Linked DNA regions of Homo sapiens. The protein of the gene in region 2 purifies or fractionates together with the protein of the main gene of each other region. This does not show direct contact. Each region holds a gene or a part of one and is shown on either strand. Other genes may lie near its edges.

What was found. The genes of interacting proteins can lie anywhere in the genome.
Region 1: the proteins of SLC19A1 (region 2) and ERLIN1 purify together in Homo sapiens (affinity purification with mass spectrometry; one large-scale study listed by BioGRID and IntAct). This does not show direct contact.
Region 3: the proteins of SLC19A1 (region 2) and ATP2B3 purify together in Homo sapiens (affinity purification with mass spectrometry; one large-scale study listed by BioGRID and IntAct). This does not show direct contact.
Region 4: the proteins of SLC19A1 (region 2) and GRK6 purify together in Homo sapiens (affinity purification with mass spectrometry; one large-scale study listed by BioGRID and IntAct). This does not show direct contact.

The regions. Positions count from the first base shown.
Region 1 is NC_000010.11:100,176,005-100,179,751, reverse strand, and holds part of ERLIN1 (erlin-1), read left to right. Parts: intron 1-504; coding exon 505-551; intron 552-1,557; coding exon 1,558-1,619; intron 1,620-3,681; coding exon 3,682-3,747. UniProt on the Homo sapiens protein: Component of the ERLIN1/ERLIN2 complex which mediates the endoplasmic reticulum-associated degradation (ERAD) of inositol 1,4,5-trisphosphate receptors (IP3Rs).
Region 2 is NC_000021.9:45,528,872-45,532,618, reverse strand, and holds part of SLC19A1 (reduced folate transporter), read left to right. Parts: intron 1-470; coding exon 471-1,230; intron 1,231-1,647; coding exon 1,648-1,849; intron 1,850-3,747. UniProt on the Homo sapiens protein: Antiporter that mediates the import of reduced folates or a subset of cyclic dinucleotides, driven by the export of organic anions.
Region 3 is NC_000023.11:153,579,814-153,583,454, forward strand, and holds the end of ATP2B3 (plasma membrane calcium-transporting ATPase 3), read left to right. Parts: intron 1-164; coding exon 165-485; 3' UTR 486-3,116; downstream 3,117-3,641. UniProt on the Homo sapiens protein: ATP-driven Ca(2+) ion pump involved in the maintenance of basal intracellular Ca(2+) levels at the presynaptic terminals. Uses ATP as an energy source to transport cytosolic Ca(2+) ions across the plasma membrane to the extracellular compartment.
Region 4 is NC_000005.10:177,432,954-177,436,700, forward strand, and holds part of GRK6 (G protein-coupled receptor kinase 6), read left to right. Parts: intron 1-193; coding exon 194-286; intron 287-393; coding exon 394-457; intron 458-582; coding exon 583-723; intron 724-960; coding exon 961-1,151; intron 1,152-1,948; coding exon 1,949-1,986; intron 1,987-2,078; coding exon 2,079-2,168; intron 2,169-3,119; coding exon 3,120-3,328; intron 3,329-3,439; coding exon 3,440-3,577; intron 3,578-3,747.

The DNA.
Region 1 (3,747 bases), on a different chromosome or scaffold from region 2:
GGCACAGTGGCTCACGCCTGTAATCCCAGCACTTTGGGAGGCCAAGGTGGGTGGATCACTTGAGGCCAGGAGTTCAAGACCAGCCTGGCCAACATGGTGAAACCTCATCTTTACTAAAAATACAAAAATTAGCTGAGCGTAGTGGTGCATACCTGTAATCCCAGCTACTTGGGAGGCTGGGGCACAAGAACCGCCTGAACCCAGGAGGCAGAGGTTGCAGTGAGCCAAGATTGCACCACTGCATTCCAGCCTGGGTGACAAAGCAAGACTCTGTCTCCAAAAAAAAAAAAAAATTGCTGTAAAATATTTTCTGTCTCAAGTCTTTCATTTCTACTAGAATACAAAAAGAAATGACTGTTCTGAGAGCTAATCTTTGGGAACTGAAATTGTGATGGATCTCTGCTGTACTTACTGTCAGCAGCTTTCCAGAGATTTGCCTCTGGTACCAGTAGTTTTTTGACAATGTGTGTCTTGAGTGTTGATGAGATATCTTTTCCTCCCTAGACAACACTACAAACTGATGAAGTTAAAAATGTGCCTTGTGGAACAAGGTAAGCTTTCTCTTTGCCTACGAGCCTCCCTTTAGCTCAGACAGAGTTTCTGTTCCTACAGCTATGATCACTTAGACATATCTCAAATAGGCATGATAGTTAACCCAAGGGGACTTCTGATCTGAGCATTGTTTGAGCAAAGGCCTATCTCCAAATAGGAGCTTTTCCATCTTAAGAACCATTATTGTTCTTATGGTATTATTGGAAAAAACTGGAGTTTTAGAGCAAGTAGACCTAACTGTGTATTAGCACTGCTGCATCTGCTTTATTGACTATTTTTTAAAGACTTTATTTTTTACAGCAGTTTTAGGTTCATAGTGAAATTGACCAAAAAGTACAGACAGTTTTTATATACCTCTTTCCCCAACACATTCCTTTATTGACACTTTAAAGCTTAGTTTCCTCCTTTATAAAGGCAGTAAAATCTACCTTGCAGAGTTGTTGTAAGGATTAGAATTACTGTATATGAAGTGCCTAACCAGAACTTGGCCCAGAATAGGTGCTTAATAAAACATAGTTTAAAATTAATCATCCCACCGTCTTCTCATCTGTAGTGTTAAATGCCATCTAATTTAGAGTTTCTGATTCAATAGGTCTGGGGTGAGGCCCGAGAATTTGCATTTCTAACAAAAGTTCCTGGGTGATGCTGATACTGCTGGTCTGAAGACCTCACTTTGAGAATTGCTGTCCTAAAGAGGTTTAGGGAAAGAAAGGCAAGCAGGGCCCAAATTATTTCTAGGGTATAATCACTGCATTGAATTGTATCAAAAGAAGAATGTGAAGTTCAAGGTATTTTTTAAATTACTTATTTTAAATGACTATTACAAGTGTAAAAAAGACATTGACATCTATAGAGGGACAGAAATGCTATGAAAAAGGAAGCGAACTCTTTCTGTGTTTTAAGTGAATATTAGTATGTTTCATTATCAGCTTCTCCCCAGGTCTATCTATAACTGTGTTTTATGGATTGCCTTTAGTAGTTCACACTTTTTTTCTTTGTTTTTAGTGGTGGGGTCATGATCTATATTGACCGAATAGAAGTGGTTAATATGTTGGCTCCTTATGCAGGTATGTTACCCATCTACCTGTGGTTTTTATAGTTATAGCCAGAGGATTTATAGCTGAGAGATTCTTTGAGGAATAGAAGGGTACTTTGAAAGTTTTATGACTTCATTGATCACTGATTAATAAATTTCTGGGGAATAGAGGCAAAAATAGGTCAGAAGTTCTGGACAGAGTTGACTTTCTGCAACTGTATGAGTTACTCTTCTCTGAGCTTAGTGTTTCTAAGAGCAAAATGGTCATTGGTTATTTCTAGAATAGGAAAGTAGTATTTTATCCAGTCAGGATGAGAGATAATTTCCTTGGGTGTTAGAAATCTGTAACTGATCAATTCCTTGGCCCACACTGATTTGCCATCAAAGAGAAGTATTTTCTAGTTGAGATTTGCTATAATTTGCAAAGCAGTCTGAAAGCCTTCAACGTGGGGAAAGCATTTTCTTGATAAAAGATGAAAACCTACAGGTATGGGGTGGGTAGGTACTGTTGTAATCAAAAACTTAATTAGAAGCCCTGAAGAAAGATATACCGTCTTATATGCATGCTTGTTAATAAAACTGGCATGTCTAGTATGTACAGAATATTGTGTTTGGCAAGAATAATTTGAAAAGATGAAATTACAGCCTTTGCCTTCAGGGGTTTTAATTTTACTTGAGAAGACATAATACAGAGCTAAAAAAGGATATATTGGGATGTAAGGTCATAATAAATTTCACATAACCGGTACAGGCACAAATAGTGAAAAGATTTCAGAGTAGAGAGCAGGCGTATTACTGTCAAGGGCATTTGGATTATATTTTTCAGAGAGTAAGCATTTTCCTTGTCTTTTTTTCCTCTCCTTTCCTTGATTACAAATCACTGGAATGGATTATGATTGAAAAAGGGAAGGGACTGATGATTCTTTAACCAGAGATTAAATAGGAAACTATTTAGATATAATTCATTTGGGAAATGATCAAGCAAATGATTTAGTCATTAAGTATTTATTAATGGCCTGTCCATTAATTTTTTTTCTTTTTTGAGATGGAGTCTTGTTCTGTCACCCAGGCTGGAGTGCAGTGGCATGATCTCAGCTCAGTGCAACCTCTGCCTTTTGGGTTCATGCAATTCTCCTGCCTCAGCCTCCCTAGTAGCTGGGACTACAGGTGTATGCCTCCACACCAGGCTAATTTTTGTATTTTTAGTAGAGACAGTGTTTCACCATGTTGGCCAGGCTGGTCTTGAACTCCTGACTCAAATGATCCACCCACCTCAGCCTCCCAAAGTGCTGGGATTACAGGCATGAGCCACCGCGCCCAGTCGGATTTGAAATCCAGTTGCATCTAATATCCCACATGGGAAGGCCAGTGGAGCAAATTCTTGGATCTGAAGACAGAAGTAGAAAGCAGCATGTTTTTGTAGATAAAGAACAGGTTCTGACGTGGTCTAGTATGTACCTTTTGGGCATTTCTAAAATTCTCTGTTTCTTAGTTTCCTAATATGCAAATTTAGGAGAATTCAGTGCTAATTTATGTAAATTACCTGATATAAAGCCCAGCTCAGTTAATGTTTTAACAACTTTAAAAAATTGCCTTTTTAAAAACGGTCTTTTGCAACTGCTTTCTTCTTTTATTTCTACTGTTCCTCAGTTTGCCTAGTCTCTCTTTACCTCTTAGCTAAACTTTTGCAGTAATTGCCTTATGCTTTCCCTGCCTCTGATCTTTATGCTTCTCAGTTCATCTTCACACTGCTGGCCAAAGCGTAAATCTGACTGTCATGCCCTTGCTTGAAACCTTTGATAGTTCCTTATTACCTCCAAAATAATGGATACTTTAGTGTGGACTTTAAAGTTAGCCCCTGTTTGATGGGCTAACCAGCAGGTGTTTGGCATTAGTATTACAAATGCAAGGGTATTTGGAAAATTGAGCACAAGCAACACATCAAGATTTGTTAGTTGTGGTTTTTGGTTTCACTATTTTGTTGGCACTTTTCCTCATGTGTAATATATCACCCTGACTTTTACCCTGGCTGAATTTGAAGGTACCTGTGTCATTGTTGGGTAAAACAAACATGGGTTGTACCTCTCCTTCAGTGTTTGATATCGTGAGGAACTATACTGCAGATTATGACAAGACCTTAATCTTCAATAAAATCCACC
Region 2 (3,747 bases):
CTACTAAAAATACAAAAATTAGCCAGACATGGTGGTACGCACCTGTAATCTCAGCTACTCGGGAGGCTGAGGCAGGAGAACTGCTTGAACCTGGGAGGTGGAGGTTGCAATGAGCTAAGATCGTGCCACTGCACTCCAGCCTGGGCGACAGAGCAAGACTCTGTCCCAAGAAAGAGATAAAAATAGAGAAGCTTAGATGAACAGGCTTGTTAATAACGATTCCTTCTGTGGCCACTGCCAGCTTTCCGCAGGCGAACGCTCCCAGGCTGCCGGGACGGTCGGGAGCCAGAGGTCCCTGTTCAGAGAGGACGATGCAGTGGGACATGGGACAGGGGCGTGTTGGGGAGAGGGGTCCCACCAGGCAGTGTTGGGGCAGGAAGCCGTCAGCAGCCATCACCTCGGGCGGGCTGTGTCTGCCGCAGCGGCAGCATTGCTAACACCTGGTGGGGCGCACGCCCGCCTGTCCGCAGGTCACGAACGAGATCACGCCGGTGCTGTCGTACTCCTACCTGGCCGTGCTGGTGCCCGTGTTCCTGCTCACCGACTACCTGCGCTACACGCCGGTGCTGCTGCTGCAGGGGCTCAGCTTCGTGTCGGTGTGGCTGCTGCTGCTGCTGGGCCACTCGGTGGCGCACATGCAGCTCATGGAGCTCTTCTACAGCGTCACCATGGCCGCGCGCATCGCCTATTCCTCCTACATCTTCTCTCTCGTGCGGCCCGCGCGCTACCAGCGTGTGGCCGGCTACTCGCGCGCTGCGGTGCTGCTGGGCGTGTTCACCAGCTCCGTGCTGGGCCAGCTGCTGGTCACTGTGGGCCGAGTCTCCTTCTCCACGCTCAACTACATCTCGCTGGCCTTCCTCACCTTCAGCGTGGTCCTCGCCCTCTTCCTGAAGCGCCCCAAGCGCAGCCTCTTCTTCAACCGCGACGACCGGGGGCGGTGCGAAACCTCGGCTTCGGAGCTGGAGCGCATGAATCCTGGCCCAGGCGGGAAGCTGGGACACGCCCTGCGGGTGGCCTGTGGGGACTCAGTGCTGGCGCGGATGCTGCGGGAGCTGGGGGACAGCCTGCGGCGGCCGCAGCTGCGCCTGTGGTCCCTCTGGTGGGTCTTCAACTCGGCCGGCTACTACCTGGTGGTCTACTACGTGCACATCCTGTGGAACGAGGTGGACCCCACCACCAACAGTGCGCGGGTCTACAACGGCGCGGCAGATGCTGCCTCCACGCTGCTGGGTACGCATGCCCTGGTCCCCGAGGCTTCTTCCCGCAGAGGCTTCCCGTCCACCTCCGCCTGCCCCGTGGATCCTTCCCCCGGAGGCTCCCTCTCCCGCCCCCTGCCCCATGGATACCTTCCCCCAGAGGCTCTCCGCCACCTCCCCCTGCCCCGTGGATCCTTCCCCCGGAGGCTCCCCCTCCCCGCCCCCTGCCCCGTGGATCCTTCCCCCGGAGGCTCCCCCTCCCCGCCCCCTGCCCCGTGGATCCTTCCCCCGGAGGCTCCCTGCCACCTCCCCCTGCCCCGTGGATCCTTCCCCGGAGGCTCCCCGTCCCCGCCCCCTGCCCCGTGGATACCTTTCCTCAGAAGCTCCCGCTACCTCCCCCTGCCCCGTGGCCCCCCAGGGCCGCTGCAACGCCCCATCCCTCCCCTCTCAGGCGCCATCACGTCCTTCGCCGCGGGCTTCGTGAAGATCCGCTGGGCGCGCTGGTCCAAGCTGCTCATCGCGGGCGTCACGGCCACGCAGGCGGGGCTGGTCTTCCTTCTGGCGCACACGCGCCACCCGAGCAGCATCTGGCTGTGCTATGCGGCCTTCGTGCTGTTCCGCGGCTCCTACCAGTTCCTCGTGCCCATCGCCACGTGAGTTCCAGAAGGGTGGGAAGCCGGGGGCGGGCAGGCGCCAGGATCAAGCCCCGCGCTTCGCTGGGTGCTCCCACCTTCCTGCTGCGCCCCAGCGGCTGTGCCACTGCTGGCCCCGCCAGCCACCTGGAGCTGACCAGGGTCCCCACTTGCCTCTCCCTGGGACCTCGGGCGTCCCTTCCTGTGCCGTCTTGCTGCTCCCCCAGGCCCTCCACGCTCCTCTCTGAAGCCTGCTGGGCTCACAGCCTTGCCCTGCTCCCAACCCCACCCTCTAGGCCCCGGGCTGCTGAGACCCCATCCAGGCAGGAGCGGGAGCTTGCACCTGTGTGAGTTCATCCTCAGCTTACACTCACACCAGGCACTCACACCACACACACACCACACGCTCACACATGGACACACACACACTCATGAACACACCACATGCGCACAGATGGACACTCACCACACACTCATGAACACATACCACACGTGCACACATGGACAAACACACCACACTCACACATGGATATATCGCACATGAACACACCACACACACGGACACACACCATGTTCACACATGGATATATCACACATGGACACCCACTACACATGGACGCACCACACACACACGGACACACAATGCACACTCACATGAACACACCACACGCTCACAGATGGATACACCACACAGACACACCACACACGAACACACACCACATGCTCACAGATGGACACCCACTACACTCACATGAATGCATCACATACTTACACATGGACACACACCACACACACGGACACCCACCACACTCACATGAACACACTACATGCTTACCCATGGACACACACTACACACGGACACACACACACTCACAGGGACACACCACATGTTCACAGACACCCACCACACTCACATGAATGCACCATATGCTTACACATGGACACACACCACACAGACACACCACACACTCACATGGACACACCACACACTCACAGATGGATACACCACACTCACATGAACACACCACATGCTTACACATGGACACAGCACACATGGACATGCTACACGCTCAGATGGACACACACCACACGGACACACAACACATGCTCACACATGGACACACACCACACGTTCACACATGGACACACCACACGTTTACACATGGACACGTTCACACATGGACACACGCTCACACATGGAGACACCCACACATTGACACACTCCCACCACATACTCAGACCACACACACTGACACACTCAGACACTGACCCTGTGTGCTCACAGGGTCCTGCTCCCTGGACCTGCCCCCTCTTTCCTGCCCGCTGGGAGGACTTTGGCCCCAGCTCAGTACCCCTTCCTGGGCTTCCCCTCCAGGGTGGCCTCCGAGCCCTATCTCCCTCCCTCCGTGGGTCATCCCCCTGGGCCTTATGCTGGTCACGAGCCTGTTTGAGCTGAGAGCACCCTCCTGACCCTTGCATTGGGCCCTCTGTGTCAGTGGCCTCACCCCTGCAGCATCCTGCCTGGATGTGCCCGGCCCTGTACTTCCCCATCCTCCCCACATGCAGGCAGCAGTCTCCCGGCATGGGCAGCCCGGCCCACCCTTCTCTCCCGCCCCTGCCATACTCGGGGCCCCTTCTGCTCCTGTGTGGCCGCCTTCTCCAGGCTCCCCGAGGCCCACACTGGGCTCTTGCCGTCCCTGGCTCGTGAAGGCCCAGCGTGATCTTGCTTGGGCCCCCCCACTGACCTGCCAGCACTGTGGAAAGGGCCAGGGCCTCTGCCATTGTGCTGTCCCATTGCTGCAGCCAGGGGGACAACGCCTGAAAGGTTTTAGTTATAAAGTCATTGATGCCCATCGCAAAAAAATCCAACACGGTGCCGCAGCGTGCAAAGCAGAAAACTGCTGTTTGCTACGGGGAAT
Region 3 (3,641 bases), on a different chromosome or scaffold from region 2:
CATGACCCCCAGCCATTGACGTGGGTGGAATTTACCAGCACCAGCCGGCCACTGACTGTCTCCTTCCTTCCTTCCTACCTTCCTTCCACGTTTCCTTTCCTTTCCCTTCCTTTCCTCCCTCCCTGCTCCCACCTCGCGCCCTGTCCCTCCACCTCCCACTCCAGATCCGGGTGGTGAAAGCGTTCCGTAGCTCGCTCTATGAAGGCCTGGAGAAACCAGAATCCAAGACCTCCATTCACAACTTCATGGCCACGCCCGAGTTTCTGATCAATGACTACACCCACAACATCCCGCTCATTGACGACACGGACGTGGACGAGAACGAGGAGCGCCTCCGGGCCCCCCCGCCCCCGTCCCCCAACCAGAACAACAACGCCATAGACAGCGGCATCTACCTGACCACGCATGTCACCAAGTCAGCTACCTCTTCAGTGTTTTCCTCCAGTCCCGGGAGCCCGCTCCACAGCGTGGAGACGTCCCTCTAACAAGAACTTGTCTCAGCACATGCGCACACGCACACTCGGACTCACACGAAGTCACACGCACACATGCACGCACACACACATATGGGGACCTGCACACCTGCAAAACGAGGGAACAACTAAGGTGGCTGAAGACCTTTCTGGCAGGGCATTTGCAAGGACCCAAATCCATTCAACAAGGGTGCAGCCTGCCACAGGCTCCTCATCCGGACTGAGGAAGACGAGGACAGGGAGGAGGAAAAGGAGGAAGAGGAGGACAAAAAGGGGGAGGAGAAGGTTCTTCGTCCAAAGGAGGAAGGAGAAGAAGTAGAAAGTGCGAAGAGCTGAGTTCCCCACCTTTTTTTCTATTGATGCTTCTTTTTTAACAAACTACAGTTTTACCGTGTGTTTGCCATTTGAGCTGTGTGGTGGGCAGGGGGCTGGTTTGGGTTTATGGGGAGCTTTTGTTGCACCCATGCAGGGGCAATCAGATCAGCATCTTCATGCAAAAAAAAAAAAAAAGTTGAGTGCTCTGCAGGCCTGTGAAGGGTGCCACCTGAGGGAGCCGCCTGCAAGCGGCCCTGCAGCCACAAAGCAACCCGCCCTCTGCAAAAACTAGGCACATCCGCAGTGCGCATGTGTGTGCGTGCATGCACATATGTGTATGTGTGTGGATCTGTACACACACACGTATATATGGCCAGATGCGTATTTCAATAAGGAACTATTTACTGGCATGATATTTGCATTCCTCTTATCAGGCATTTTCATTTGGAAATTTCATTATTGAATGTAGCAAGGTTGTAGTTGTTTTTTTTTTTTTTTCAGGGAACTAGACTGCAAGAATATCTTTCTGGTCAACCCATTTTTGTCCCTCATCACCCCGCCCCCACCTTTCGCTCCTGCCCTCTGCCCGGCCCTACTGAGATTCCCAAGGAGAAGGCCGAGAGGGGGCGCTCCAGGTCTGGAGCAGGTATAATTGGAGCATTTGCACTGAGACCCCTGCCAGAGAGGAGAAAACCCTTTCAAGGGAAATTTTAATCTAAAAGGAAAAAACCAAAATATTGATGAGAAGGAGTCCTCCAGTTAGTGAAAGGGGAGTTTCGTTTTCAGCTTTCTTTGGTTCCTACTCCAATTCCACATCCTTCATCCTGGCCATGCCCCCACCTTCAAGAGCATGAAGCACTCTTGGAGTTGTGGGTCCTGCCCAGAGTCCAGAGAGCAGCCTCAGCTGAGCACAGGTCCGAGGGGGCGGGGGCAGGGCCAAGAGTTCAAAAGAAGCCAATGGAGGGAGAGGGAGCGTCAGAAGCCCGGAGGAGCTGGTGGTGGGAGAATGACGGCAGGGACGCAGCCACAGTTCAGACCCTGTCCCCTCAGCACCTGGATGGACTCCCACTGTTTGCTTTGGCAAATGCCGAGGAGTCCTCGGTAGACCACCTTGATGTCTGCTGTGACATCAGAGGTGCCACCACCAAAGCACTCTTCCCACCCTAGTCTTTGTGTCCAGCGGCCAAGCTTAAGCCATGAAGTCATGGATTTGTGGCTCAGCACCAGGTCCTGAGGGGAGCGTATCCTGGCAGTGTGGGCACCTGGTGGCCAAGCCTCAGTTTCCCCCAAATGAGCAAAGGGGATAAAGAGGGGCCCGACTTTTGCCACCCTCCTGAGGAAGCCCCTAGGTCCACACAGTGATGCCATGGGGGACCCTTGCCTTCCACACTTGCAGGTGTCACGTTTTGCAGGGAGGTGTTTGGGCCTTGGGCTCAGCCACTGGGAGACAGTTGGGACCTGAGGGACAGAGGATCGGAATGGAAACCACCAACGTGCACTGGCACCCTCAGAAGGCTTGTCTCACCTCCACCGGCATCCACACAAAACCAAACAGGAGCAGGCGTCATCCCCACTATTCCCATGAATGCCATGTCACCCCTGAGCAGAAGCAGTCAAATCTTGGGCAAAAGAATTTCGGTTAGAAAAGAAAATCCCACTTTAAAATGCCAGCTGCAGATAACTCAAAGCCATCCCTTTTTTCTAAAGGGCACATTGAGAATGTCACCCATTTGTAAACTGTTCCCTGATGTCCTTGTTTAAACGATAATAAGAAAAAGGGCAACTCCATTTGTTGAGGGTCTTTGTGTTCTTCAATGAGAAATCAAATTTGAGACGTTGAAATTGGAGCTGCGTGCTGCTGCACTCACCGGCTTCTTCTCACTCTCTGTCGTAGACACACCGATAGGACCAATGGCCAATAGATATTAAAAGCAAACCCTCACTGCTGCTGTATAAAGTTGCCTAATGTAAATGTCTATTGTTTAGTCCCTAGGTCACCTTTGTGCTGTGCTGTGGAGTTCAGAAACGGGGTACCATGACCTGGAATCTTTTGCTCTTGTTTTTGCAGTCTTCAAGGCTGGGGGCCCTGTCTCATTGGGAAGCCCCTCTTTATAAAGCATTATATTACTTGGAATGGCTTGGTCAACTGTGTTCAGTTCATAAATATGTTTTACATTTTTATCTGCCTGTTATAAAGATGAACAAAAAAACTTAATGAGAAAGATCACAGATACGTAATAATTTAAAGTCTGTAGTTGAATTTCCTAACTTAAAGAATAGACCAAAATTTCTGTGTATAAAAAAAAATGAAAGGCTCCTTACATCCTGGTCTGGGTAACGTGTGTGATTTATTATTTGGTGAATTATTGTGCAGAACAAAACAAAGGTGCCTTCATGCCTCTTTAACAGAGCTGGAGAAGCCCCGGGCAGGAGGGGCTTTCCCCTGGGTGTGCAGCAGCCTGGCCGGATGTGTATGCAGAAGAGGAACTTATGCTGGGATGTTAGGCCCCCAGTGGGAGGGGCTCCAGCTGCTGCAGGAGCCGCGGCTGTCTTGACTTGAAAGGGCCTCTAGTACACGGCGCGGTGGCTCAGTCCTGTAATCCCAGCGCTTTGGGAAGCCGAGGCGGGAGGATCCCTTGGGCCCAGGAATTTGAGGCTCCCCGACACACATGCACGCTCCCCACTTCTTTTATTGTGGTAGAACACAGATCACATAAAATGTACCACGTTCACCATTTGTAAGTGTGCGGCCCAGGGGCAGAAGCACATTCACGGTGCTGTGCAGCCATCACCACCGTCCAGCCGCAGAACTTGTTCATCTTCCCAAACTGAAGCTCTGGCCCCGTTCAACCC
Region 4 (3,747 bases), on a different chromosome or scaffold from region 2:
TGCCTCCCCTCTCAGTAGCACCCACAGCTTCAGCACAGGCTGTGTGTCTCCCCGCTCAGGGGTTAGCAGGAGGACTGGCCGACGACGATACCTGTGGGCTAAGCCTGTACAGAACGGGAGGCCTGGCCCAGCAAGCCAAGAGCCTGAGGTGTCAGGGGCTGGCGGGTGAGCTGGGCCTGCCTTTCCTCAACAGGCTGACCCACGAGTACCTGAGCGTGGCCCCTTTTGCCGACTACCTCGACAGCATCTACTTCAACCGTTTCCTGCAGTGGAAGTGGCTGGAAAGGTGAGCTCCCTGAAGGCTGGGCCGGGACAGGCCAGGTCGCCGGGGTTCTTCATAGGCCTTGGGCTCTCCTGCTCAGCCAGCGTTTGCTTCCCCACCCCTTGCCACAGGCAGCCAGTGACCAAAAACACCTTCAGGCAATACCGAGTCCTGGGCAAAGGTGGCTTTGGGGAGGTGAGTGGCCAGGCCAGAGCCCCTGGGAGAGTGAATAGGGTGGGTGTGTTGGGACCTGGACCACCCCCTGGATGCCCAGCAATGGCACAGCTGGCCCCCATTCGCCCCTGTCTGTCTGGCCACAGGTGTGCGCCTGCCAGGTGCGGGCCACAGGTAAGATGTATGCCTGCAAGAAGCTAGAGAAAAAGCGGATCAAGAAGCGGAAAGGGGAGGCCATGGCGCTGAACGAGAAGCAGATCCTGGAGAAAGTGAACAGTAGGTTTGTAGTAAGTACAGAAGGAGACTCTCCCTTCCCCTTGGCCACACTGGCGCACCGACCGTCCCCACCCCCCAGGCCCCACCCTCCCATGTGGGATGCCAGGAAGGGCGGGTTTGGGGTGTTGACACCAGGCTTGGGGAGCAGGCTGGGCCCAAGGAGTGGCACCGAGAAGGCTTTTTTGGGCAGCCCTGCCGCCAAGCGCCCCGCAGCTCCTGCCTGAGGGCTCGGGTCCCCTCGGCCACAGGTGAGCTTGGCCTACGCCTATGAGACCAAGGACGCGCTGTGCCTGGTGCTGACACTGATGAACGGGGGCGACCTCAAGTTCCACATCTACCACATGGGCCAGGCTGGCTTCCCCGAAGCGCGGGCCGTCTTCTACGCCGCCGAGATCTGCTGTGGCCTGGAGGACCTGCACCGGGAGCGCATCGTGTACAGGTGGGGAGGGCTCGGCCACCCCAGGGGCTTAGTCCTTCCCTGCCAGCGACTGCAGCTGGGCCTGGACGGGGGTGGCCAAGGCTGCCGATCAGGCCAGACTACAGAAGGACATTGGTTTGGGGGCTGTGGCACCGGCTTAACTCACACGCCAGGCCAACCTGAGTAGCCCAGACCTAGGCTTTGGGCTCTGCTGGACCCACGGGGTATCCTGACTTTGTCACCCCTCCACCCCCCACCGTGTGACCTTGGGCCAGGAGCTCCCTGCTCCCAACACTGCTTCCTTTTCTAGGAAGCAGAGACTATAATTCCTACTTCCCAGGTTGTTAGAAGTAGGCCCAACTTCCTACTGGAGGGGCCCAGTGAGCTAAGTACAGAGTGCCTGGCACATGGGGCTGGGTAAGAGAGAACCCTGGCTCTGATTGTTGCCGACTTCCTGTGAACCTCACAACAGCCTAGTCAGGGGACGGATGAGTAGTCCCATTTGATAGAGAGGAAAGGCAGAGTCAGTCACCAAGGGGTGGAGACTCCTTGGTCTCCACTGGGGAGGCCCCTCCGGGGTGGAGCTGTCTTCCACTCATCTAGAGAGTCCTGGGAGTCCTGGCTCTAGATCCTTCCTCTGCTCCCTTGAGTCCGGGCTGTTGCCAGGGAGAGCAGGGCTGTCTGTCGCCCTGGCAGCAAATGAGTCTCGCACCTTGCTCCACACCTGGCCCCCGGAGGCGAGTGAGCTGGGGGGGCTGGCCCCTTCTGACTCCCTGGCAAACTGAGCAGCATCTGACCCTGCTCTTCTCTCTGCACAGGGACCTGAAGCCCGAGAACATCTTGCTGGATGACCACGGTGTGTAAGGGTGCCTGGGGTGGGTCAGGGTGGGGTGAGATGCAGAGGCCTGGCCTGTTAACGGGTCCACCTGTTTCTCCACCCACACTCAGGCCACATCCGCATCTCTGACCTGGGACTAGCTGTGCATGTGCCCGAGGGCCAGACCATCAAAGGGCGTGTGGGCACCGTGGGTTACATGGGTGAGTCTTCTCTGCCCGGCCCACTAGCCTCCTGGGTTCCCTCACTATCCACCCACCCAGCCACACCCACTTCTGTCTGGGAGTCTTCTCTCAAAAGGGGCCTCAGTAGAAAGGGCCCATGCCGATGCTCCTCTTCTAGAGGTTAGGAGACCAAGACTCAGCCGGGGCCGCACACAGTTGTGAAGCCATGTCGTTCATTTGCTGAATACTTATTAAACCCTGCTATGGCTGAGCCTGCAGGTGGCTACCGGGGGATGGAGGAGAGAGACCCAAACCTGTTTCCGTGGCCCCAGTCCCTGCCCTCCCTGTGCCCATCTGTGAGGGAGGCCAGTGGAGGGGCCAACATGAGGCCCCACATTCCACCTGGAGACCGAGAGACGCAGGAGGCAGAGTCCTGGCTCTGCAGGCTCCGCCTCTTGCCGGTTGCGTGGCCTTGAACCAGACACTCCGCTGCTCCCGGCCTCACTCTGCTCCACTGGAAAACACTCATCATACCTGCCTCCCAGGGCTGCCTGGAAGATGAAAAGGGAGAGTTCAGGGAAAACTCCCCACAGGGCTGCCCTGGCAGGTAGGAGGTATTCAGAAAATAGGAGTTTCCTTCTTCTCGCTGATATTAAATCCAGAAGTTGCAAAATGGTAGCCACATGGGCCCAATTTGGCCTACATTTGTGTTTAAGTCAAACTGTTTTTAGTAAGCCAGATGGTTTCACATACAAAATACAGATTTCTGACTTCTTGTGTAAAATCTGAAGACCCGGGGACCCTGGGCGCGGCCTCCTGCAGGGCCGTATTCACCCCGCTTGATGGGGCCTGTGCTCTCCTACTGGCCAAGGTCCCCCCTGGCCAGCGGGTGTGAGTGTATCCCAGACCTAACGTGCACTGGCGTTCCTGGGGCCTGAGGGTCCACTGCCCGCCTCCTGCCCAGCCCTAACTCCCATGCCGCCCGCCCAGCTCCGGAGGTGGTGAAGAATGAACGGTACACGTTCAGCCCTGACTGGTGGGCGCTCGGCTGCCTCCTGTACGAGATGATCGCAGGCCAGTCGCCCTTCCAGCAGAGGAAGAAGAAGATCAAGCGGGAGGAGGTGGAGCGGCTGGTGAAGGAGGTCCCCGAGGAGTATTCCGAGCGCTTTTCCCCGCAGGCCCGCTCACTTTGCTCACAGGTACGGCAGCTCACAGAAGCCTGGCCAGCCAGGGCTGGGGTGGATGCACCTTTCCCTCCCTCCCACCCACTCACCTGCCTGGCCTGCCTGGCCGACTCACCCCTGCCACAGCTCCTCTGCAAGGACCCTGCCGAACGCCTGGGGTGTCGTGGGGGCAGTGCCCGCGAGGTGAAGGAGCACCCCCTCTTTAAGAAGCTGAACTTCAAGCGGCTGGGAGCTGGCATGCTGGAGCCGCCGTTCAAGCCTGACGTGAGTGCAGCCCACTCCTGCTGAGGGCGGGGCCCAGCCAGGGCTGGGGCTCAGGGGCTCTTGTAGTATCAGCCAGGATGCTTCCAGTGCAAGTGGCAGAAAAAACAATCTAGTGGCTTAGCCACAGAAATAAAGATAATTCACAAAAAGGAAAAGCCCCAGGATGGGTC